7 linked regions of the Homo sapiens genome follow. The protein of the gene in region 5 purifies or fractionates together with the protein of the main gene of each other region. This does not show direct contact. Each region holds a gene or a part of one and is shown on either strand. Other genes may lie near its edges. The genes, in order: TMEM63B, RDH11, CYP51A1, SNX14, TMEM268, VRK2 and DHRS7.

Region 1 (3,500 bases), on a different chromosome or scaffold from region 5:
ATGCCATTTTTTCTAATAGGCATAGAAAGAAAAGATCAGGATGAGGCAGCTGGCTCCTGACCCATTCTCCCCTGACGTGGAGACCCCTCATCTTACCCTTGAGTCCTCAGGCCTAAGACCCCTCCCTGTCTTCCCAGGCTCAGCTCCGCCCCCTGCCCTAAGACAGAGAGAATGAGAGTGTGGGGGTGGCGGCGGCAGGGGGGATTTAGATAGATGTTAGAAAATCACAGATACCTTCCAGCTTAATGAAACCAGCCTCCCCAGTCCAGGCCTGGCATCTAGACTGAGTTCCCCAGACCCAGGGTGGGGTCATAGCCAGAGAGCCAGTGAAGGTAAATCCATGTGACTCAACTCTCCCCTCCCTAGGCCCTTATCTCCAGAGGCCAGAGCTTCCATCCACCCAGGCAGCCTGGTGATCTGTCCTCACTGCCCCCTCCCCACGCCCACCCTACTGGGCCATGAAGGGGATGGGGGCAAGCCCAGCTGACTGCTCCACCCTCTGCCCAGGAGGACCATGCGGCAGTAGCAGCCATGCTGCCCTTTCTGCTGGCCACACTGGGCACCACAGCCCTCAACAACAGCAACCCCAAGGACTACTGCTACAGCGCCCGCATCCGCAGCACTGTCCTGCAGGGCCTGCCCTTTGGGGGCGTCCCCACCGTGCTGGCTCTCGACTTCATGTGCTTCCTTGTAAGTGCCTGCTGCCACCCCTTACCTTGGCATCCATGCCCTGTACACACCTGGCAAACACTTCCAGCTCTAACCACTCTCCCACCTGCCCCGGTTTCCCAGGCTTAAGCAGGAGGAGTCCCCATCATCCAGCCCAAGCCTCGCCTTTGACCATTCACCCAAGCCAGGGTCATCCCCTTCTAAGACAAGATTTTGGACCCTCTGCTTCTGCCCCCTAGTCCAGCAGGTGGACAGACAGCCTCTGCACTTGCCAACTGCCCCCTCTTCCCTCAGGCACTGCTGTTCTTATTCTCTATCCTCCGGAAGGTGGCCTGGGACTATGGGCGGCTGGCCTTGGTGACAGATGCAGACAGGTAAGGGTCTGGGACCCTCCCTCTAGCTCTCCACACACACATCTTGTTCCACACTCCTCAGGAATAGGAAGGAGCCAGCCCTCTCTCATTCCCCTTTGCTGGGGGGATGAGAAGGGACTAGCCCCAATGTGGGCATGGGGGCATGAGGGCCCTAAGTTGGGCCCCTGTTCCTCACCTGTCCCCAGGGACTCTCCCCCGCCCCTGCTAACCCTGTCTGTTCTCTGTCCCCAGGCTTCGGCGGCAGGAGAGGGACCGAGTGGAACAGGAATAGTATGTGGGGCACCAGCCCCCTCATTCCCACTAAACCAGCTTTCCCTTTTCTTCTCTCACGCTTCTCTTCTCTTCCTGCCAAGTTGCTGGTTTCTTTTTGCAGTTTTCTCCTCTGCAGGCTCATGTTTCGGATTAACGCAGGCGGTGTGCTTTGCAGAGCAGGGGGCTCCCCAGCTTGTCTCTGCCTCACCTCCCCTTCATCTCTCCCTCTGGCTCCCTGCCTGGGAGAAGTCCCTCCCTGTGTGCCCCTGCCTATGCAGCCCTTGTTGGCTGGAGGGGAGGGGCTGTCCTCCAGGAAATCCTCAGCACAATCACGTAGAGACAAGATTGGGTGTCACCAGCAGCTTCTTGTCCGCTAACAGCTAGTTCTTCATATTCCAGGGTTCCCTGCTCACCTCTTCTGGAGGCCTGGGAGGAGGGCTGCCCAAGGAGCCCCCCAGTCTGGGCTTTTTTGTCACTTTGTCATCTCTGTCTATAGGATTGGAGTTGGAGTTGTAACAGCTGTTGGAGTCAGGGAAGAGGGAGGGGAGCGGAGGGTAGGGTCCCACCCAGGAGACCTTCCAGTCTCCCCAGCCCTTCCAGGTTCTCCTGGTCCATCCTTTCCTCCACCTCCTCATTGCTCTTTGCATAATGTTGGCTCCGTTGCCCGCCCCCGGCCCCTGCCAGTCAACTCTGGAACTGCAGGGCCCTCTGGCATTCTCGCTTCAGCCTCCTTAGGGAGATGATGAAGATTACCTCCTCCCTCAAGTCCCCACTGCCCACCATCAGTGCCCACCTCCGCTCCCACCCTGAGTCCCCCTGAAAGGAAGAGGCATATTTGAGGGAAGCAGGGTAGAGGGCAGTCATTCCTCTCTGCTTCAGCCTCTGCGCTTCCTGTGCCTTCTGTGCCTTCTGTAGCCCTGGAGCTCTGGAGCACTCAGCCCAGCTTCCCGGGGGCTCAGACTCACCAGGCTCTCTGATCTCTCATCTCCCTCACCCCCAGTGTGGCTTCAGCTATGCACGGGGACAGCCATGACCGGTATGAGCGTCTCACCTCTGTCTCCAGCTCCGTTGACTTTGACCAAAGGGACAATGTGAGTGCCCTCCCCCCAAACTTCTTAGTCCCCCACCCCACCCCCAGGGCACATGGGCTGAGAAGTCCCTCACTTTCAGTGATGTGGAGTCAGGGATGCTGGTTTGGCCTCCTCCTCAGCAAAGAAAGTGATTCAACCAAGGAGCCACAGGATGACCCCCCAGGCCCTGAACTCCTGGCTGCTGTCCTCTATGTCACAGTCTCCAAACTAGCACAGCCTTAACATTCATGAATTCCCAACTTTGTTTGCCATAAAGAGTTTTGTGCCCACTTCTGCTGATTAATCCTAAGGCCACCTTTTTTCCGTAGTCATGGTTTTAGAAATAATAATAAGCCCTTGGCTCACGCCTGTAATCCCAGCACTTTGGGAGGCCGAGGCGGGAGGATCACGAGGTCACTAGATGAGACCATCCTGGCTAACACGGTGAAACCCCGTCTCTACTAAAAATACAAAAAATTAGCCAGGCGTGGTGGTGGGCGCCTGTAGTCCCAGCTACTTGGGAGGCTGAGGCAGGAGAATGGCGTGAACGCGGGAGGCGGAGCTTGCAGTGAGCTGAGATGGCGCCACTGCACTCTAGCCTGGGTGACAGAGCGAGACTCCATCTCAAAACAAACAAAAAAAAGAAATAATAAGCCCTCCAGCCCTGCCTAGAAAAACAGAATCTGTCATGTTGCTCGGAGGTTGCAGGTGGGTGGCCCCTGGCCATGTGGGGCCGGTTGACCTGCTTGTGGATTGGAGCTGAGTGGCAGTGGTCCCTTTTAACAAGGCATATGAATGGCAATTCATAACAGACTCCAGACCCCTTTCATATCAGACCTAACACACAGGTGTTACCTGCCTGGCTCTCCATCATTAATTCCATGAGGGTAAGGAGCCTAGTCAGAACTCTAATCCTCAGACATGGTGTGGCCCTGGTCAGTCCCTCTTGGGCTGCAAGTCCTAGGGGTGGCAGCTCTTCCAGCAATTCCAGCAGAAGATGGCCTTCAGCTTCCTGAGTTGGACTCATACTGGTAGGTGGCAAAGTTGTCACATCTGCTAGCCAGAAGTGTCCAGATGGTCCCCAGACTCAGGTGATGTTGGCAACAGGTAGCATGGTCCTGAATCACGGCCGAAA
Region 2 (3,500 bases), on a different chromosome or scaffold from region 5:
ATAGGATCATCCTACCAAATGAACATCTGTGAGATGGGAAGGAAACTGGTGGTTAGCTCAGTCCTTATGCCCAGTCTGTGCCCAGGGCATGACATCTTTTATCAGTTTAGGATAGATAAGGGTAACTGGATGGTGAAAACTATCCAAAGAGTTGATCAGGGAGCTAGGGTGGCCTGGAGGTGGAAAGATGGGTCCAGTGGTGAGAATTCACTAATACATGAATGAGGTGACTCTGATAGTTGTGAGGATTCAGTGGAAAATCATTATGGTGCAGTAAAAGAACCCTGGTTTGACAGAAGATTCATTCATTCAGCCATTCAGCAGACACGTATTCAGTGCCCATGTTGTTCCGTGCACTGGGTTAGGGGACAGGGGATGAATTGGTGAACAAGATAGGTATAGTCTCTTCTTTGGTTTGGTTTACATCTAACGGGGGAGAAAGACAATTAGCAAGTCTTTATACAAACTATTAAATGTAAAATCAGTCTAGTAATGCATGAATAATTCTCATTGTAAAAAGCTCAAATAAGGTCAGGCACAGTGGCTCACACCTTTAATCCCAGGCACTTTAGGAGGCCAAAACCGGAGGATCACTTGAGGCCAGTTCAAGATCAGCCTGGGCAAAATAGTGAGACCTCATCTCCTCTACCAAAAAAAAAAAAAAAAGAGTTCAAAGCATATGGAAGTATGTAGAATTAAGGTGAAAAACCACCTTCATTTATTCCCCTCTTCCCCCTGCTCTTCTCCCTTCATATGACCATTATCAACAGCTTGTGTGCCCCTTTCCAATAATTTTCCTATGCATTTACATATGTATGTATCATGCACAAGGAACTGAAACTCCAACACAGTATCTTGGAGATCTTTCCATTTAGTACATATGGATTTACCCCTTAATTGTATTGGCTGTGTTGTATTTCGTAGTATAGATGTGCCTTAGTGTATTTATGTATTTCCTTAACAACATCTGGATTGTTTCCTTTTTGTTGTGGCTGTTTAATTATAATTGTGATAAATGTTATAAAGGAGAAGTACCAGGACTTACAATGGATTTTAGTGGGAGTCTTGGGGGGACCTTATTCAGTCTGAGGGTTCAGGGAAGACTTTCCTGAAGAAGTGAGTTGCATGCTGAGCCCCGAAGGATGATTAGAAATTAAATGGATTAGAGGTACTGATAGAATGTGGAGGCTGAGGCCGGGCGCGGTGGCTCACACCTGTAATCCCAGCACTTTGGGAGGCCGAGGCTGGTGGATCACCTGAGGTCAGGAGTTCGAGAACATCCTGGCCAACTTGGTGAAAGCCCTGTCTCTACTAAAAATACAAAAATTAGCCAGGTGTGGTGGCGGGCGCCTGTAATCCTAGCTACTGGAGAGGCTGAGGCAGGAGAATCGCCTGAACCTGGGACAGAGTTTGCAGTGAGCCAAGATCATGCCATTGCACTCCAGCCTGGGCGTCACGAGTAAAACTCTGTCTGAAAAAATGAAAAAAAAAAAGGGCCGGACGTGGTGGCTCATGCTTGTAATCCCAGCAATTTGGGAGGCTGAGGTGGGTAGATCACCTGAGGTCAGGAGTTCAAGACCAGCCTGACCAACATGGAGAAACCCCATCTCTACTAAAAATACAAAATTAGCCGGGCATGTTGGCGTGTGCCTGTAGTCCCAGCTGCTCAGGAGGCTGAGGCAGGAGAATTGCTTGAACCTGGGAGGCAGAGGTTGTGGTGAGCTGAGATCATACCATTGCACCCCAGCCTGGGCAAACAAGAGTGAAACTCCATCTCAAAAAAAAAAAAAAAAAAAAGGAATATGGAGGCTGAGAAACATTCCAGGCAGAAGGAGGAGAATGTACAAAGGTCCGGGCTCAGTTTGAGAAACAGCGAAGGTTACCATTGGTAGGTTGTAGAAAGCAAGAGTAATAAAGATCTGAGCTGAGACTGGTGAGGTAGGTAGATGCCAAACCCTTAGAGGCCACAGTAAGGATTTTAGTGTTTATTCTAAGAGCAATGGGAAACGGTTAAAATTAAAGCCTTTTCAAAATGGGGGCAAGAGGGGTTGCAGCAGTTGATTTCATCAGCAGAGGTGAGAAATGAGGGTAGTTTGGACTAGGTGGTGGAATTGGAGGGTAGTAGAAACTTCTGAGAGAGATTTGGTTTGGGAAAGCTTGTTGACTGGAGATGCATGCTTTAGGTGGGCATTCATCAGAACCCTTTTGCCTGATTGGGCATGTCGGGAACACTGCAAGAACCAGGTTTGGCTTTAAAAGTAGAAATCAATTTGGGACCTCTGAGTCTGCATTACTATGGGTCATCTAGGGAGATGTCGAGTAGGCAGTTGGGAATAATACAGCTGTGTCTGCAGCTGTCAGTCCACAAAGACCAGAAAAATTCTGTTTCTTCAAAGCTTTACACCAAAACTCATTTGGCAGCAAAACATTTCCTGTACTAGGGAGATTAGATTAATAGGCAGTGTATGTATACATTTCATATTACCTTTCTACAATCAGAGAAAAAAATTGAAGTATGTCTGGCCCCAGCGTTTTCCATAAAGGATTGGGGGCCTGAAATAGCATGTGCAAAAGTATCATTTAGCACTTACCATGCATCAGGCACTTTTTTTTTTTTTTTTTTTTTGCACCGGTGTCTCACTCTGTCGCCCAGGCTGGAGTGCAGTGGCACGATATCGGCTCACTACAACCTCTGTCTCCCTGGTTCAAGTCATTCTCCTGCCTCAGCCTCCCAAGTAGCTGGGATTACAGGTGCACGCCACCATGCCCGGCCAATTTTTTCTATTTTAGTAGAGACGGGGTTTCACTGTGTTGCCCAGGCTGGTCTATAACTCCTGAGCTCAGGCAGTCCACCTGCCTTGGCCTCCCAAAATGCTAGGCTTATAGGTGTGAGCCACCACGCCCAGCTGCATCAGGCACTCTTTTAAGACCTTTAACATATATGAACTCATTTAATCCTCATAACTACCCTGTGAGGTTGTAAGTATTATGATTATTCCCATTTTAGAGATGAAGAAATGAGTCACAAAAGGGAACTTGCCCAAGGTTACACAGCTAATGAGTGGAGCCAGGATTTGAAACTGGGCAGTCTGTCTACAAAATCCATGCCCATAACCACCACATTGTGTTGACTCCCAGTGTGTCTGCAGTTCAGAGGAGCAGTTTGGACTGTGGACAAAATGTGAGCACCATAGAATTATGGAGAGGGAGTCTGGTGAGCCACGAGAACTCCAACATTTAATGTTTGTGTAGAAGATGATGAACTGGTCCAGAAAACTGAGACAGAGCAGCCAGAAAGGTTAGGAAAACCAGAAGTGGCATAGGCTTATGGAAGCCAGTGAAAAAGAAGACTTTAAGAAGGGGATGGGCGCCTGTAATCCCAGCACTTTGGGAGGCCGAGGTGGGCAGATCACTTGAAGTCAGGAGTTCAAGACCAGTCTGGCCAACATGATGAAATCCCGTCTCCACTAAAAATACAAAAATTAGCCTGGTGTGGTGGC
Region 3 (3,500 bases), on a different chromosome or scaffold from region 5:
AAAATTGATATTAATTAACCCTCATTTTTCTTTACCATGCATCTGTGGGGTTTTCTAACCTGCTCTATACATCTTCTGTGATTTCACTGTCCACTTGAATGACCCACATGACACCATAGCTACTCAATTATTTGCCCGTCTTCTCTCTAATGAGCTTCCCTGTGCCAGTTAAGCCATTTACTTCACAGTCTCGCTTTGGACTTGTCACTCTTAACTGTTTCACTTCCACAATATTAATTTAGATATCCTATTCGTAGACCATACCGTCTCCTGGTTTGCTTGTGCAACTCCTTAAATTATAACTATTCTTTGACCTCATTGGATCTTGCATTCCATTTACTTTCTCCTGATCCATCAGCCTTCATTCTTCACTTTCCTCTTTCCGCTTTGGGTCCATGGCATGTCGTTTCTGTTACACTCTTGGCAATACTGTACTTTAAATTTCCTCGACCCCGCATCTTTTCATTGTGTTCAGCTGGCAGAAGTCACCCTTGGAGGCAGCCAGTTATTGTCTCCTTCTGCACCAGATTAGTTTCTTCCTGATTTTATGATTGCCTACCTTAATGATATTTGAACACTGCTCCACAGTCCTATTATGTTCTTGTGATTGGGCCTACTTTTCCACTCATTACAGTGACTAATTCAAACCTTCACTTTTCTAAACTTCTGAATCTTTCTACCTCTCCATCAAAGCAGATGATTTTTTCTCCTGTTTAGGAGACAATGATTAAAAACGTTGATTTAGGAGACAATTATTAAAACATTCAAAGAAAACTTCCTCATTTTCTCAATTTCAAATATGCAAACCTACTTGTATTTATATAGTAATCCTATTCTCTTTCTTCCTATCACAGTAATAATTATCAAACACTTACTTTATGCCAGTACTTAGTGCTTTACAAAGATCATCTCACTGAAGCTCCACAAAAACCCTTTCAGGTATATTTGTTTTATAGATGACAAAACTGAGAAGCAGAGAGGATATATAATTTCTTCTTGGACTCACTGCTAGACAGTGGCCAAGCCAGGATTTACACATGGTCTGATTTCTGAGCCTATACTTTTATTAATGATAACAATAATGGAAAACAAGTCATTAAGATGCTAAGTAAGCCAAGGTACTCTTCTCTGCCCTGTATATAAAATTTGGCAGCAGCTCTGTGAAGAACTGCTATTATTATTATTACCATTTTATAGGTGAGAGAAACGAAACACAGAGAGACTAAGTTCTCTGACTATAGGACCAAAGTCATACAGCAAGTAGGTGGAGGAGCTGGGATTTGAACACGGACAGTCTGGCTCACTGCGTTCTACCACTTTGATTTTATTACAACTATATTTTGCCTCTTATCGGAGGCTGAACTCTCCATCCCTCTTTTGTCTCAGGAACTTTTTACTTTTATTTGTTTTCTCAGTGTATTGTTGACTTCTTTTTCAATGGCATCTTTCCTTTTTCTCTGAAAAATTCTTGTCACCCGTTTAAAAACTTCCTCAAAATGGCTTATGAGGCTCTGTATGGTCTAGCACTGCCTAATGCTCAACTCTCATCTCCTCCTTTCTCTTTCTCTTACTTTTAGGGCCTTTGTGTATGTTTAGCTACCAAACCAGCTCCTCATTCTTCTGGTCTCAACCTAGTTGTCTTTTCCTCTATTAGGTCTCCCTTTTTTAGATTCTCTCATCACAGAGTTGCTTTCCTTTCTGTAATACTTGTCACATTTGCAGTTTTATGTTTGTTAATGTGATTATTTGATTAATTTGTATTTTTTCCAATAGACTAAGCTTGGTGAGTTGGGACAGTATTTTTTTTCATGATTATACCCCCAGAGTCTAGTCTTCAATCATAACCAGAAAACTGCAAGGGAAAGTATTTAACATCTAACCAAATTAATATAAAATAAAAAATGAAGTCATTTAGTGTAGGTGAGATAGTGCTAAAATAGATAAATAAACTTGTAGTGTCTTCACATAGCAGGTACTATAGAAAAGGTCAAATTCTTTGGCTAGTCTTGTAAAATTTGTTTTTAACCAAAGGGGGAAGAAGTCTATATTTTCAGAGGTGTTCATCACAGAATTAGCTGTAATAACTAAAGAAAACCCTGACATATCACCCATATGTCCAATAATGAAAGAGTAGTCAGTAAATTAACATTGTGATGTTTATATAGACAATAGAAAACATTGTCAATATAAACTGAAAAAAGCATAATAAACAGTTATATTTATACTACATTTGCAACTAAATGAACATAATTATAAATTTGGACAAAGGAAGGAGGAGTATGGCAAGATGAAAAGAATTGCTTTAAGGTTTATATATGTTTTTATTTTTTTAATAATGCATTATTTTGTGATTTTAAAAAGTTACTGTCGTAGTGTTGCATATTTTTTGTAACATCACTATATGTACTTTTCTCTTTTTAGTATGGACCTGTATTTAGTTTTACCATGGTAGGCAAGACATTTACTTACCTTCTGGGGAGTGATGCTGCTGCACTGCTTTTTAATAGTAAAAATGAAGACCTGAATGCAGAAGATGTCTACAGTCGCCTGACAACACCTGTGTTTGGGAAGGGAGTTGCATACGATGTGCCTAATCCAGTAGGTGACACTGTTACCATAAATAAAGACAAATCTATACCTCAGTAGTTATAGCTAATAGTGAGACATTATACATTTAAAATGTAGAAACAGCCAGGCATGGTGGCTCATTCCTGTAATCCCAGCACTTTGGGAGGCCAAGGTGGGTGGATCACTCAAAGTCAGGAGTTCAAGACCAGCCTGGCCAACATGGTGAAACCCTGTCTCTACTAAAAATACAAAAATTAGCTGGGTGGGGCTGGTGGTGCACACCTGTAAATTCCAGCTACTTGGGAGGCTGAGGCATGAGAATCGCTTGAACCCAGGAGGCGGAGGTTGCAGTGAGCCGAGATCACAACACTGCACTTTAGCCTTGGCAACAGAGTGAGACCCTGTCTCAAAAACAGAAACAAAAAACCAAACACACACACACACACGCACGCGCACACACACACACACACACACACACACAGAAACCAACCAAACAAAAATGTAATAAAATGTAGAACCAGTTTATTCCTTGGTTCAAAAGTCTGAAGAATCATGAGAAGAAAGGCCATGGATAACTGATAAGTAATGGGTATTTAGTTTTATATTTGCTGTCATGGCTAAACAATATTAAAGGGCTTCCTGTACAAATAATGGAATCAATGATAACTTAGCATACTGGGATTTAATTTGAAAGGGTTATTAGACAATGCTGTTACTTCATCAAAAGGACTTCCTGCCTACCCATTCCTGCCTGAAATTCTAACATAAGCGCTGTTTAGAGATTGCTGACTTCAGAAGTCCTCTTTTAATGCAACAACTTCACGTGTGGGGTACATCTATGTGTATGTTTTACCCTCAAAAGCCAAATACGAAATTGTTTTAAGTTGATATAGAACACAAATCAGACAATTGGCCCCAATGCTTGGTATGGG
Region 4 (3,500 bases), on a different chromosome or scaffold from region 5:
CCAAGATAAGCAAAAAGGAGCAAAACAGACTTTTGAAGAAATGATGAATTACATTCCAGGTGTAATATTTAAGAAGTAACTTAATTTCATATAGATTAGCAGTCCGTTGAGGTCACAATGTATAGTAATTATTGAAGCTAATTTTTTACTGTGAGTTTTCATTTTACAAATAGTTGCAAAGATCAGTTAAAATTAACACACTAGTTAAATAATTCTTTCAGATGTTAGCACTAAGACTAAGATATTAGGACTTTAAGGCAAGGCTGTTTCTACTCACATAATAGCCAGATTCATTCAAAAATAACTTATAGTCAGACTGGTCAAAGTGACATGTGGGACAATTGAAGGCCTGTGTCCACGACACCATAAGAATAGCTCACTAGTGTGTATGATAAAAGATCAGAATTCATTCATTCCAAATTTATTGAGCACCTTCCATATTCCAGGCACTATGCAAAATGCAAGGCATATAAAAAATGCACTTGAGTAGGTCAGTCTAGCAGGAAGACAGGCATATAGACAAAACATACATGTGATAATAGAGGCATTTTCAAGTTACAGAGATATCACAAAGGAGGAGGATGGTCACCTCCTCTGTAAAGTTGGTAGGTTTGGGCCACTAAGGAAATGAGTGGTAGTAACCTCTTAACTGTGACGGGAAATAACAAGGAAGAAATGTCAAGGGATCAAAGCAGGTGATTCTTAGTTTAGAACATTTTGAATGAGAAGTGCCTATAAATTACTCAGGAGGAAGTGTCTGTTAAACACTTAGACACCGAGGTTCAAAAGTTGGAGAAAAGGTGGTATAGGATAGATTAGTAGAGATATGGGAGCCATGTGTGAGTAGATACTAAAGCATAGGGAGAAAGTATGGAGTAAGAAGAGAAAAGGGTGACTTCCAGTTTCTGGTCTGGCACATAAGAACCTGGCCATCATCACTCCATCCTAGTAACAAGCAAAAACCTGAATGAACTAAAAAAACTAAACAACTCTTAGATTCACCAGAGAGTGAGGTCATACGGCAAGCCACTGCCCCCCAAGGTTGGAGAGAATCATAGCTAGCTGCAGCAGAAACCCGTGAACTCAAAACCCCTGGAGAAGCCAGTGCTGAGCTAGGGAAACCTGAACTATAACTGACAAATTGCTACAGCCTTTTAAATCTCTTTTTAAGAGATTAAAAACTCCAGGGGAACCAAGTCATGGGGTTACCCATCCACATTTTTTTTTTTTTTTTTTTGAGACAGAGCCCCACTGTGTCACCAAGGCTGGAGTGAAATGACACGATCTCTGCTCACTGCAACCTCCGCCTCCTGGGTTCAAGCAATTCTACTGTCTCAGCCTCCCGAGTAGCTGGGACTACAGTCCTGCACCACCACGCCTGGCTAATTTTTGTATTTTTAGTGGAGATGGGGTTTCCCCTTGTTGGTCAGGCTGGTCTCGAACTCCTGACCTCAGGTGATCCACCCGCCTCGGCCTTCAAAAGTGCTGGGGTTACAGGCGTGAGCCACCGTGCCCAGCCCATCCACACTTTTTTTGTGAGTTTTACCTCCAGGGCCTTGACCAAGATCCCACAGTGAATATTGGAGAAAAATCCCCATGTGCTTCTGGCAAGGGGGCCAGAAGGGAACCATTTTGAAATACATCAGTCAGGGCATTCTGTTCTTGACAAGGCCCTACCCTCAGTAGAAAGTGACCAGAGCCTGACTGACCTGATGGAAGGGAAAGAACCAACTCTAGCCAGCCCTGGCCTTCCACATGGAAGAAGGGAAATACCCAACTCCAATACACTCTAGCCATCTTGTCCTGTGCAAGGGGGTCAGGGGGGCCTGAGAAGCATGTGTGAAGTTCACAGTTCAGTGGTACAAGCTCACTAAAAGATTGAGACCCCCTCCTAGGACTATAGAACCCTTCCTCTCCCTCCATATTTTATCACCACATTACTAAAGGCCTGTTTGCAGCAGTTCCTCTTAACTTGTGTGTCATGTCCAGTTATCAAGAAAAAAATTACAAGACATATTAAAGGCAAGAAAAAACAGTTTGACGAGAAAGAGCAAGTATCAGAACCAGAGTCAGATATGGCAGGGATGTTAGAATTATACACCAAGTGGGATTTATCCCAGGTATTCAAGGCTGGTTCAGCATTCATTCAAAAGTCAATTAAGGTAGTCCATCATCACATCAGCAGGCTAAAGAAGAAAAATCATGATCATAGCAGTAGATGCAGAAAAAGCATTTGACAAAATCTAACACCCACTTATGATCTCAGCAAACTAGGAAGAGAGGGGAACATCCTCAACTTGATAAAGAATATCTACAAAAACACCTATAGCTAACATCACACTTGATGAAAAACTTAAAAGCTATCCCACTAAGATGAGGAACAAGGCATGCTCTCACTACTGCTTTCAACATTGTACTCGAAGTCCTAGTTAGTGCAGTAAGACAAGAAAAGGAAATAAAGAGCATAGTGATTGGGAAGAAAGAAATAAAACTGTCTTTGTTCACAGATGACATGATTGTCTATGTAGAATATCCAAAAATTGACAAAAATGCTCCTGGAAATAATAAGCAATTTTACCAGGGTGGTAGGATATAAGGTTAATACACAAAATTCAGTTACTTTTCGTGTATATCATCAGTGAGCAAGTGGTATTTGAAATTAAAAAAAATACTATTTGCATTAGCACCCCCAAAAGTGGAATACTTGGGTAGTAATCTAACAAAACATGCACAAGATTTATATGAGAAAAATTGTAAAACTTTAATTAAAGAAATCAAAGAACTAAATAAATGGAGAGAGATTTTATGTGGATAGAAATATTCTGTTTTCAAGATGTCCGTTCTTCTGAACTTCGTCTATAGATTCAATGCAGTCCCAATCCAAATCCCAGTAAGTTGTTTTGTGGGTATTGACAAACATTTTAAAGTTTATATGGAGAGGCAAAAAGACCCAGAATAGCCAACTCAATATTGATTGAGAACAACAAAGTCACAGGATTGACACTACCTTTCTTCAAGGCATACTATAAAGCTACAGTAATCAAGAAAGTGTGATATTAGCAAAAGAACAGACTTACAGCAACTGTTCTTATTAGCAAAGGAACAGTTTACAGCAAAACTGTAAAACTTAGAGGATAACATGGGAGAAAATGTAGATGACCTTCTGTTTGGCGATGACTTCTTAGTTGCAACACCAAAGGCATGAACCATAGACGAAATAATTGATAATCTTTACTTCATTAAAATTAAAAATTTTGCTTTGTGAAAGACACTATAAAGAATGAAAAGAGAAGCCACAGACTGGGAGAAAATATTTGCAAAAGACGTATCAGATAAAGGACTGTTACCAAAAATGTACAAAGAAATCCTGAAACTCAACAATAAGAACACAAACAACCTGATTTTAAAATTGGCCAAATATCTTGACACCTTACCAAAGAAGATTACACACAAGCATATGAAAAGATGTTCTACATCATATGTCATCAAGGAAATGCACA
Region 5 (4,102 bases):
AAAACAAAGACCCTTTCTATTAGGTTGGTGCAAAAATAATCGCGGTTTTTGCAATTTTTTTTTTTTTTGAGATGGAGTTTTGCTCTTGTTGCCCAGGCTGGAGTGCAATGGCGCAATCTCGGCTCACCGCAACCTCCACCTCCCGGGTTCAAGCGATTCTCCTGCCTCAGTCTCCCGAGTAGCTGGGATTACAGGCATGCGCCACCAGGCCCGGCTAATTTTGTATTTTTAGTAGAGACGGGGTTTCCCCATGTTGATCAGGCTGGTCTCGAACTCCCGACCTCAGGTAATCCTCCCGCCTCGGCCTCCCAAAGTGCTGGGATTACAGGCGTGAGCCACCGCGCCCAGCCTGTAATGTTTTTAATGGCAAAAAAACGCAATAACTTTTGCGCAAACCTAATATTAATATAGGGACGTTTATGTGCCCCTTAAAAGGAAATGAGGCAGTGTGGCGCGTTCTGGCCGATGAGCGCCAAGGTACTTTGTCGAATGAAAAAGCAGAGTGCCCAACAGAATAGAAAAGGCCTTCCTTTGTGTAAACGCACACACGCACAGGTACATATGTGCTCTAAGGAAAAATACAAGGAAAGCACAAGGTTAGTGTTTTCCTCAGGGGAAAGGTTACTTACTTTTAACCGTAGACCCTTTGAAATTACGAAGGATGGCGATGGGAGTGAGCCCTTGTGAGTATAGCAATTGGGAACACGAGTGAGTATGTGTCTGGTAGCTGTGAACATTTCACACACACTATCTCATTAAATCTTCACACGACCTCATGAAGTAGCTATAATTATCTGCTTTTTACAGAAAACGAAGGCACAAAGAGGTTAAATAATTTACCAAAGACGATAATAAGAAGTGGAGAGACCCGAATCACAGCCTAGTCTGACCCCAAACCAATGCTCTTAACAATACAGCACATACACAATTTTCCATTAGAAACAAGTCCCCGGCCAGGTGCGGTGGCTCACGCCTGTAATCCCAACACTTTGGGAGGCCAAGCAAGAGGATCGCTTGAGGTCAGGAGTCCGATAGCAGCCTGGGCAACACAGCGAAACCCCCGACTCTAAAAACAACGACAAAACCAACCAAACAAAAACCAAACCCAAGTCCCCAATAAACTTCTGGTCTCAAATACTGCCTCATCCACGGGTTCCGTGATTGTGTGTGAGGGGGCTGGACCTCTGGAGTAAGCCGCTCCTTTACAGTGGGGAGACGGCGGGAACCCGTGCCCCAAGATGCCGTGCACGTGGTCGGCTCCGCGCGGAGGCTCCTTCCGGCGTCCCGGGGGGGCGCTCGGCTGATGAAACGCGGCCTCCAGCTCCGCTCCGCCGCGGGCCCGGGAGGCGCGTTCCCTCTTGGCCCCAAAGCGAGTCCGGCGGGCGGCTCCTCGGGGTTGGGCGACCGAGCGGGGCCGGCCGGGCGGGGGGCGGGCCCGTGAAGGCGGCGCAGCGCGGCGCGGGAGGCGTGCTGGGCGCGGGGCTGCGGTGCCCAGAGGCTGCGGCATTAGGGGCTCGGCGCCCCCGACCTTCCGCGTCCCGGGGTGGCGGCGGCGGCGGCGGCGGCGGCGCGGGCGGTGAGTGTGCGCGGGCCCGGGCGCGCGCCCGTGTCCTGCGATCCGGGCTTGGTGCTGTGGGGCTCCGGGGCCGGGAAGCAGCCTGGGCGCCTCCGCCTTGGCCTGCGTTCGGGCCAGACGGCCTGGGTTCGGCGCGGCGGGCAGCCTGCGGGGGGTCCTTCGTGCGCCCTGGGGCCCCTCCCCCGCGTGCCGGCCGTGGGAGCGGCTCTGACAAGCCTCCTGGGGGCCCGCGGTTGGGGAGGGCCAGACTGATTTATGGGGAGAAGGAGATCCCCCATCCTCAGCCGACCTGGACAGTTCCAGAGGGCGGAGACTGAGACTGGGACGAGACAGCTGCCCAAGGCCAAGGCCGTGTATGGCGAGACAGCTCCAGCTGGCGTGAAGGAGCCTGGGTTTCAATTCTGGCCCAGTCCAGGACTGGCTCCTTGACCTTGGATGGTACACTTTCTTTTCTGGGTCTTAACGTCCTCACCTGTAAAATGGAGAGCTCGGACTCATTGTGTCTCAAGGTTTTTCCGCCCCGAAACTTCTGTAACAGGCCCTCTTAGGGTCTCGTGTTGTGTTTTTCACAAACAAAACAAAACCTGACTTAGGAAACTGACGAATCTCAGTGCTGCACATAGTTCCCGGGGAGGCTGGGCACTCGGTGTCTGCAGAGCTGGGGGCCTTTGCGCAATAGGACTTAAGAGTATGTTCCTTTGCAGATGCTCTCTACGGGCTGAAAAAGAGGGGAGTTGACCTTGTGCAAGATGGATATCTGGAAGTTCTGGTTAAAATGCAGAATCAGCAGAGGAGACCCAGAGAAGCTCTAGTTTTCCTGCTTAGTTGCAGGGGCCTCAAGGCTGTGCTCACTCCCCCTGCTCTGCCTCCACCCTGCTGTCTGTCTGACCTTCTGTGTTATCCTCGGGCTGGTGCAGGGCTGAGCTGGATGGGGAAATGGGGTTCAGGACATATGATAGGCATCTGCCCTTGAGGTCTTGCCAGCACCCCTCCTGCCCTCTGCAGCTTCCTGGTTGAATGAGGGGCTGCAAGGTGACCACACAGGCTGCCCTGATGGGCATGTCCTGGCCTCTGGTCCATATCCCTTTCTGCTTGGCACTGGCCTCTCTTGGCTCTCACCTCCACCTTTGCCAAGCCCAGGAGCCTCCTTCCTCCAGGAAGCCTTCCGGAGAACCCTTCCCCCACCCCAACCAAGGTGCTCCCTCTCACTGCCTTGTTGCAATTGTTTGTTTTGTAATTGTCTTTCCCTGAGTTTGTCTTTCCTACCAGATGGTGATCCCTAGCAGGGAGGGCTGAGTAGGAACTTCAGATTTTATTTCCAGTTTCGTGCTCAAGATAGCACAGGGCCTGGCCTGAGAAGGTGCTTAGGAAATGTCTGTGGAGTAAAAATGATGGCAGCTATATTTCTTCAATGATTCCTACTTGCCCAGTGCTATTTTGAGTGATTTACATGTGTGAACTCTTTAAACCTCACAACCACCTGAAGTTACTGTCGTTATCCCCACTTACATGTAAGGAAACTGAGGCAGAGAAGTAACTTACTCAAGGTTACACAGGTGAGAAGCGGCAGGACAGGGCCGGTTACTTTTAGCTATTACAGGAAACAGCCTCCAGGTGAATGGAATAAAGCCTGCTGATTAGTACTTTGTGAGAGGCTGATGGGGCCAAGTAGAGTGCTGTGGTTTCTTCTGAAAGACATTGCCTCATGGGGGGATTTTGCAACAAATGGAACCTTCCACGCAGTCTGAAAGGCTACCTGTGCAACTCCAGCCTGGGCATGGTCCCTCGTGGCTGCTCGGTCCCCCAGGCCTTTTTGAGACTCTAGTACAGCTTCTCTGGGCTGTAGGCCCCTAGCTACGATGTCCCTTCGTTTCTTGTCTGGAACATGGATCTCAGAATTATATCTGCCTCAGGGGCCTAAGAGATGATCAAATGAAGGAGGGAAGGGCTTCAGTGATTATCAAGTGCAGGGCAGAGATCCTTGTGGCTATTTTTGTTGGTACAGGAAGAAAGTAAGGCGTGATGAGAGTGAGAAACACTTAGCATATTTAGGAGAGTCTCCTGCTGTGGGCCAGGTGAGGAGGAGAAGGCCCCTGCCATCCCCAGAGTAGCATCTCAGGGCTGACTTGCATTTGTTGCTTGATCTTGCCTGGGAAATGCAGTCTCCCTTGACTCACTCTTTTTTGTTTTGTTTTGTTTTGTTTTGTAAGGGTGATTTCATGAACATTCTCAGAGACAGTCACACTAGAGTGCAGAGGGGCAAGGGCATGGAAATTATGGGCTTGGACCCTGGAGCCAGATGGCTTGGGTTTATCTCCTGGCTCCATGGCTGGTAGCATAGCCTCCCAACCTTGGGCAAGTCACTTTACATCTTTGACCTGCGGTTTTTTCTCCTGTAAAATAGGAAAATCATGTTGAGGAAAGGGGCCTGTCTGGTGAGCCGAGTACTGGATATTATGCTTGCATTTCCTTCTGTTACATCCCCACAGCAGCTATAGGAGGTAGACCTCTCTATCCCCATTTTAC
Region 6 (2,783 bases), on a different chromosome or scaffold from region 5:
TCCCTTGTTACTCAACATCTTAATAGTCTGCTATTGGCTCAGGAAATACATCCCTTACTCTTGCAAAACAAAATTAAGCTAAGTCTTCTGGAATAAAAACATAATGCACTTAAAAACAAAGGGAATGACATTTGGAGTATCTGTAATTTGTAATCATGCTGACGCTTCTCCTTTATCTTTTAAAATTTGCAGTGGCTGAGAGGACTACTAACTAGTAGACAGAGTTTTAACATCATATTTGGTGAATGTCCATATTGTAGTAAGGTAAGCAAATTGTTAATCACATCTCATAAAATGTGCCTAGCTTTCAGTAATATGTTCTAGAAGATAGATCTATATAGTATATCAGTTTATCTAAAACTTTTGAAACTCATTCTCTGTATTTCTATTTTTCAAATTCTCTGATCAAAAACATTAAACTCCTTTTCTAGATTTCCTAGGTGATCTGAAACTTCAGAAGTGTTTTCCAAACTGTACTATGACACTATTCTATGACACTATTTCTAGTACAAAGCAATTTTATTTTTTAGAGTGTCCACAAACTTTGTTAAAATATGTTCTCTTTTTAAAGCCAATTACCTTAAAAATGTCTGGAAGGAAACACTGAAATAAGAATACAACATTTCGGTGAAGAGCTGGAAACTTAAAAAATTATCAAAAGGAATTTTGGTATCATCTTCAGAGAAAAAATAAAGCAAGAAATACTAACATCAAAAGGACAGGTATGATGATGCGATAATAATAAACATCTGCGTTTGTCTCTTCACTAAGAGTAAACTGGGAAATTGTAGGCCAAAGTCCAGTTGAACTTTCTAAGTCTGTGATCCCCGTGCTGACTGTGGAAGTGTATTTATACCAAGATGGAGATCTTGACTTCTTGAATATATCTGGACTGGTAAAATCTTGATGAGGCTCATAAAATGAGTTTGGGAATTGTGTATAGCTGATTTTTTGTGGGAAACTGTTTACTTCATTCAAAGGTTCTTGAGACTCTTGATATTTCTGTCTTCTCCTTGTGCTTTCCTATGGAAAAAATACATATATAGTTTAGTTTGTTAGACGTGAGTTATCCAAGTATTTATTTTGTGTAGTGTGTAAGAATGCTAAATAAAATGTTATACAAGATCAAGTTTTTGCGTGTTATTTTTCCTGAGAAGTAATTTTTAGGTAAAGATCTTAAAGATTTACACTTTTTAAGAGTTTATAAACATCCAACAAGCAAATCTGGATATAATTTGAGTGGTTCTTTTAAACCACGTCAGTAGGCCATCTCTTAAGTAATTTATAATCTAAAAATAAATAGGATAGAATATGAAAACTGAATTTTCTTGGCAAAACCAAAAAATTGGGCTTAATCTTAAGGGGGTAAGATAGCCATAATTAGAAATATTTTGGTCATTAATGTGATTCTTTCTTTACCTTCTGATTCCATGGCAACTGAGAAGTGTCCACTGTACAGTGGGCAAAGGATGAGGCTGTACACAGCCAAAGAAAACTGCCTCAGGGGTAGCTATAGTGTTATGTCTCTTGGAAAGCTATACAGACGAACCAGTATAGACCGAATAGATATTAATATAAAGCAAATTAAGTGGTATTAATATAAAACAAATTAACTGGTTACTTATGCAAGTTTCGGGAGCTACTTCTATGTTTTCATCATTCCTGTTGGCCAAAGTCCCAGGAATCAGTTTCCTGATCACCACTTAACTGGCTGAAAGTCGAGTTTTTCTGCTTTGCTTTGGTGACATCTGGCATGCCCCCTCAGCACCATTTATCAAGTAACTAACTTAGAAGAGAAGAAATTTATAAAACAAAGCAAAATACTTTAAGCTTGTTCACTGTCCATCATTCTCAGAATAGCTACTACCTTCTCAACCTTTAAACTGCCACCCTTCAAACAAACAGCCCTCCCCTTTCTAGATACAGAGTTTTGGAAGTGTCAGAAAGGAGTCCTACATAAAACAAAGGATGTTTTAAAAACTACTAGCTTTCCTATGAAAAAAAATTACTTGAGAGTTAAATGACTCACTTTAGAGTTAAATAACTCATTTTAAACTACTCTTTCTGAGCTAACGAAGTCACATTAATGCAGTTTTTCATAAGTTTGTCAGCTTTATTAACTAAAGTCAAAATAAGTGAATAATTATTCCAGTAGGCCTATAAAGCATAATACAAATAATAATTATGCTATCAAATCATAGAGCAGCATTTACATATAGCTCACATGTGCAAGGCTGGGAGATATCTCCACTTAGGTAAGGATAGAAGTCAAGCTACTATAATTTCCAGAATCATCTACTGTGTAATCTATACACTTAATCTCTCTTGAACATCAGCAAATGACATCATATGGCAAGGCACTCATCAAAGAATTTAACCACCTGTTGTCTTCAGTACACTGAGGGGGTCTGATTAGGATAGTCTATAACAGGAGTTGCCAAAATTTGGCTTGGCTAGTTGCCTGTTTTGTGAATAAAGTTTTATTGGAACAGAGCCACATCAATTTGTTTATGTATTGTCTATGTGGGCTTTTGCACTACAATGGCATTGTTGAATAGTTCTGACAAAAACTGTATGGAAAGTAAACTGAAAATATTTTCTTTCTGGCCTTTTAAGAAAAGGTTTGCTGACCCCTGCTCTACGGCATTATTCTTCGAGTATTAGAAAGCAAACAGATCATCATAACTTGTTAAAATGCAGATCTCATTCAAAAGGTCTAGGAGTATGACCTGAGATTCTGTATTTCTGAGAAGCTCCAGATGATGCCAATACAGCTGGTCTGC
Region 7 (3,500 bases), on a different chromosome or scaffold from region 5:
TGGCTCATTGCAACTTCCGCCTCACAGGTTCAAGCGATTCTTGTACCTCAGCCTCCTGAGTAGCTGGGGCCACAGACGTGCACCACCACACCCAGCTAATTTTTGTATTTTTAATGGAGACGGGGTTTCACCATGTTGGCCATGCTGGTCTCGACCTCCTGACCTCAGGTGATCTGCCTGCCTCGGCCTCCCAAAATGCTGGGATTACAGGTGTGAGCCACCGCACCCAGCCATTATGTTCACATTGAAAGCAACTTCAAGTATAAAGTTATTATTTTTCATGGAACATTTATTAATAGTACCTAAACTGAGATAATTTTGAATTTTCCAACAGACCATTTTTTGGGCCATCTCTCTACCTGTCATTCTTTTAAATCTTTAACTTTGCTGATCGAGCTAACCACCCAGAAATGAGAGTTAGTTGCCACAGTAGTGCTCAGCAGGGCAACAGGCCTCTTTCATGATACTGCTTTCAAAGGCCTCTTGTGTTTTTGCACTGGGCCACTTCTTTTGATAGTTGTTCCTCTACTGCTGTGACTTGCAAGTCCTGTACTGGTGGAGTAGATGAACCAGGTCAGCATTTCTTACCTGGCACAAGGCTGTTTCCTTTTATCTTGCAGATCTGTAGTGCCCACTTTTTCATTTAATACAGTTGATGTTTCACGCTTAACTCTTTTGCCCATGAAGTCTTTTTACCTCTTCTATTTTCTATACTTGCTTGTTTTTCTTACTGATGTTACTTGTATTTCAAGGTTAGAGTCCAGGAAAATTAGTTTCAGTTGTTCTTTTGATGAACAGAAAGCCAATCACAAAGCAGCAGCATGTTTCTTGGTTGGGAATTTCAGGCATGTGTCCTTTTCCCTGTTTACCTCCAGGAATCCTTAGCCTCTGGAGAGAAGCTTCTATATGTCATTTGACTGTAGGACTCTGAGCTTCTTACTGATTTTAAGCACAAGTAGTTGTTTTGTGTGTAGAAGAGCAACTCATCTTTGTGAGCCTATCACAAAACAAAGGTACCTCTGTACTTCTAAAGAAATTGCTCTAAAATATTTGCTCTTTTCTAGTTTGTAGTATAATCTTGATTTCTATCAGAAATCAAATTGTAAAGTTAGACTGCATATTCAAGTTGCCATTCTACTTCCTGTGAGGCCAGCCAGCTTTTTGTCTGATATAACCACTAGTCCTCTTCCTGACCACCGAGAGGAACTTTCACAGGGCCACCCAGAAATGAGTTTGTTGCCAAGTCCTGTTGCAGGGTGGGTGTTAGTGGGAGTAGCAAGGAGCTTGACTGAACTATGGCATGACTTCCACACAAATTTTTGTCTTTATTTAGAGAATGGCAATTTAAAAGAAAAAGATATACTTGTTTTGCCCCTTGACCTGACCGACACTGGTTCCCATGAAGCGGCTACCAAAGCTGTTCTCCAGGAGTTTGGTAGAGTAAGTAGCATCTTATATTGATATAGTCTTGCTTTGAAGTAACTGCAGAAGAGATTCCCATCCGTGGTGCTGTCATACAAAGGGCTTTAGGCAAGTGGGGTCCATGCAGTGAGATCGGGCCCATGAGTTGGGCCCCTTAATCTCTGAGCCTTTGTCATTATGGAATTAGTACTTTTCATGTCTTAACAAGTACAAATTCCTCCATGTAGAACAAAAGAAGCTAAAAATTCACGGCTGCTTTTATTTATTTATTTATGTATTTTGAGACAAAGTCTTGCTCTGTCGCCCAGGCTGGAGTGCAGTGGTGTGATATCGGTTCACTGCAATCTCCGCCTCCCAGGTTTAAGGGATTCTCCTGCCTCAGCCTCCTGAGTAGCTGGGATTACAGGCATGCACCATCACGCCCAGCTAATTTTTATATTTTTTAGTAGAGATGGGGTTTCACCATGTTGGTCAGGCTGGTCTTGAACTCCTGACCTCATGGTCCACCCTCCTCAGCCTCCCAAAGTGCAGGGATTACAGGCTACTGTGCCCAGCTGGCTGCTTTTATTTATTTTAATGACAATTATTAACTTTCACAAAAAGTCACCTAAAACGGGAATTTAATTCCACAGGTAAATTCAGGGCTTTATTTTATCTTTTTAATTGCTGACTTCTGGAAATATACCATTGTTCCATTGATTCTTTAAGTTAACAAAATAACCAACCATCCATAGGAATTCCATCAATCTATCCACAAGACATCCCCCAAACACCCCTTTTCTGATTTTATTTAACTAGATCGACATTCTGGTCAACAATGGTGGAATGTCCCAGCGTTCTCTGTGCATGGATACCAGCTTGGATGTCTACAGAAAGCTAATAGAGCTTAACTACTTAGGGACGGTGTCCTTGACAAAATGTGTTCTGCCTCACATGATCGAGAGGAAGCAAGGAAAGATTGTTACTGTGAATAGCATCCTGGGTATCATATCTGTACCTCTTTCCATTGGATACTGTGCTAGCAAGCATGCTCTCCGGGTAAGGCTGCTCAAACTCAACTCTGATAGAACTGACTTAAATGTGTATATGGGGGATATGGCCATCACTGTGTGAGGTCCTTGGAACTGGAAGTGATGTGGGGAGACAGAGAGACCCAAGGAGACTTTTGGTAGAGGACACCCCCAGTAGATGCTAAAAAAGACTTGATCCACACATGCCTCTAACTTGTTGAACAAATAAATATGTATCAAGCACTGCATTGTGCCATGTACTACAACAGACCCTGGGGATATAAAGATAATAAGATGTGGTCTCTGCCCTCAAAAAGTGTATCATCTATTTAACATGTTACTCTTCACCTTATCCTTATTCCTACTAAATCTTCATGGAAAATTGGGGGTCCACTTCTCCTTTCTTCTACATACACTTCAGGATGTACTTTTTCCTCCCCATTTCTGTGACTTCTTTTCCTTGCCCCTTGTAGTTGGTGTTTATTTTGCCTGGTCTAATTATATATGCATGTCAGAAATAGGTACTTCCCACAGGATGATTAGTCCTGGTCTCATATCCTTACTGGGAAAAATCTTGACTGTATTCTCTCTGGTTTCATTGGAAGAAGAAAATCTAGTCAAGGCAGAGGCAAGGAGAGAAGCTTGATTTGGACTGCATAACTTACGATGTATAAATATTAGAAATGGATGAATTTTTAATGGTGGCTTAAGACTGGATATAAAGAAATTATAAGGCCAATAGGAAAAGAATGATTAAGGAAGACACAAAATTTATATTTAAAGCTGTTGAAGTCAGTTTAAGTAGAATGTTTCACTGTTGGAATCATGAGATGCAATAGCTACATGGTCATCATGGTTTCATGAAAATTTGAAGCTTTGGTTCTTTAGGACATCTTTTTTCTGCTGCAAAGTGCAGACAATTGCAGACAGTGATGAAGCGGAATGCTATACTGATGATTTCCTCATATTTAGTAACAGGCATCAGTCACTTCCTGTGGAGCAGTTGGGCAAGCCTCAGGCAGGCAGATGAGGGAGGGCGGCCACCCATCTGTTTGGCACCACGTGTCT

What was found.
Region 1: the proteins of TMEM268 (region 5) and TMEM63B purify together in Homo sapiens (affinity purification with mass spectrometry; one large-scale study listed by BioGRID and IntAct). This does not show direct contact.
Region 2: the proteins of TMEM268 (region 5) and RDH11 purify together in Homo sapiens (affinity purification with mass spectrometry; one large-scale study listed by BioGRID and IntAct). This does not show direct contact.
Region 3: the proteins of TMEM268 (region 5) and CYP51A1 purify together in Homo sapiens (affinity purification with mass spectrometry; one large-scale study listed by BioGRID and IntAct). This does not show direct contact.
Region 4: the proteins of TMEM268 (region 5) and SNX14 purify together in Homo sapiens (affinity purification with mass spectrometry; one large-scale study listed by BioGRID and IntAct). This does not show direct contact.
Region 6: the proteins of TMEM268 (region 5) and VRK2 purify together in Homo sapiens (affinity purification with mass spectrometry; one large-scale study listed by BioGRID and IntAct). This does not show direct contact.
Region 7: the proteins of TMEM268 (region 5) and DHRS7 purify together in Homo sapiens (affinity purification with mass spectrometry; one large-scale study listed by BioGRID and IntAct). This does not show direct contact.

Annotation. Positions count from the first base shown.
Region 1 is NC_000006.12:44,134,054-44,137,553, forward strand, and holds part of TMEM63B (mechanosensitive cation channel TMEM63B), read left to right. Parts: intron 1-366; exon of another isoform or gene 367-507; coding exon of another isoform or gene 508-531; coding exon 532-690; intron 691-963; coding exon 964-1,043; intron 1,044-1,274; coding exon 1,275-1,313; intron 1,314-2,295; coding exon 2,296-2,386; intron 2,387-3,500. UniProt on the Homo sapiens protein: Mechanosensitive cation channel with low conductance and high activation threshold. Osmosensitive cation channel preferentially activated by hypotonic stress.
Region 2 is NC_000014.9:67,685,765-67,689,264, reverse strand, and holds part of RDH11 (retinol dehydrogenase 11), read left to right. Parts: intron 1-3,500. UniProt on the Homo sapiens protein: Retinol dehydrogenase with a clear preference for NADP. Displays high activity towards 9-cis, 11-cis and all-trans-retinol, and to a lesser extent on 13-cis-retinol.
Region 3 is NC_000007.14:92,127,978-92,131,477, reverse strand, and holds part of CYP51A1 (lanosterol 14-alpha demethylase), read left to right. Parts: intron 1-2,421; coding exon 2,422-2,598; intron 2,599-3,500. UniProt on the Homo sapiens protein: Sterol 14alpha-demethylase that plays a critical role in the cholesterol biosynthesis pathway, being cholesterol the major sterol component in mammalian membranes as well as a precursor for bile acid and steroid hormone synthesis.
Region 4 is NC_000006.12:85,510,359-85,513,858, reverse strand, and holds part of SNX14 (sorting nexin-14), read left to right. Parts: coding exon 1-59; intron 60-3,500. UniProt on the Homo sapiens protein: Plays a role in maintaining normal neuronal excitability and synaptic transmission. May be involved in several stages of intracellular trafficking. Required for autophagosome clearance, possibly by mediating the fusion of lysosomes with autophagosomes.
Region 5 is NC_000009.12:114,609,989-114,614,090, forward strand, and holds the start of TMEM268 (transmembrane protein 268), read left to right. Parts: upstream 1-1,302; 5' UTR 1,303-1,576; intron 1,577-1,582; exon of another isoform or gene 1,583-2,014; intron 2,015-4,102. UniProt on the Homo sapiens protein: Stabilizes cell surface expression of ITGAM and participates in the adhesion and migration of phagocytes during bacterial clearance.
Region 6 is NC_000002.12:58,157,589-58,160,371, reverse strand, and holds the end of VRK2 (serine/threonine-protein kinase VRK2), read right to left. Parts: intron 1,130-2,783; exon of another isoform or gene 1,024-1,129; coding exon 679-1,023; 3' UTR 608-678; coding exon of another isoform or gene 572-607; 3' UTR 501-571; downstream 1-500. Other genes in the region: E3 ubiquitin-protein ligase FANCL, read left to right, coding at 193-324. UniProt on the Homo sapiens protein: Serine/threonine kinase that regulates several signal transduction pathways.
Region 7 is NC_000014.9:60,151,899-60,155,398, reverse strand, and holds part of DHRS7 (dehydrogenase/reductase SDR family member 7 isoform 1 precursor), read left to right. Parts: intron 1-1,333; coding exon 1,334-1,440; exon of another isoform or gene 1,441-1,447; intron 1,448-2,220; coding exon 2,221-2,460; intron 2,461-3,500. UniProt on the Homo sapiens protein: NADPH-dependent oxidoreductase which catalyzes the reduction of a variety of compounds bearing carbonyl groups including steroids, retinoids and xenobiotics.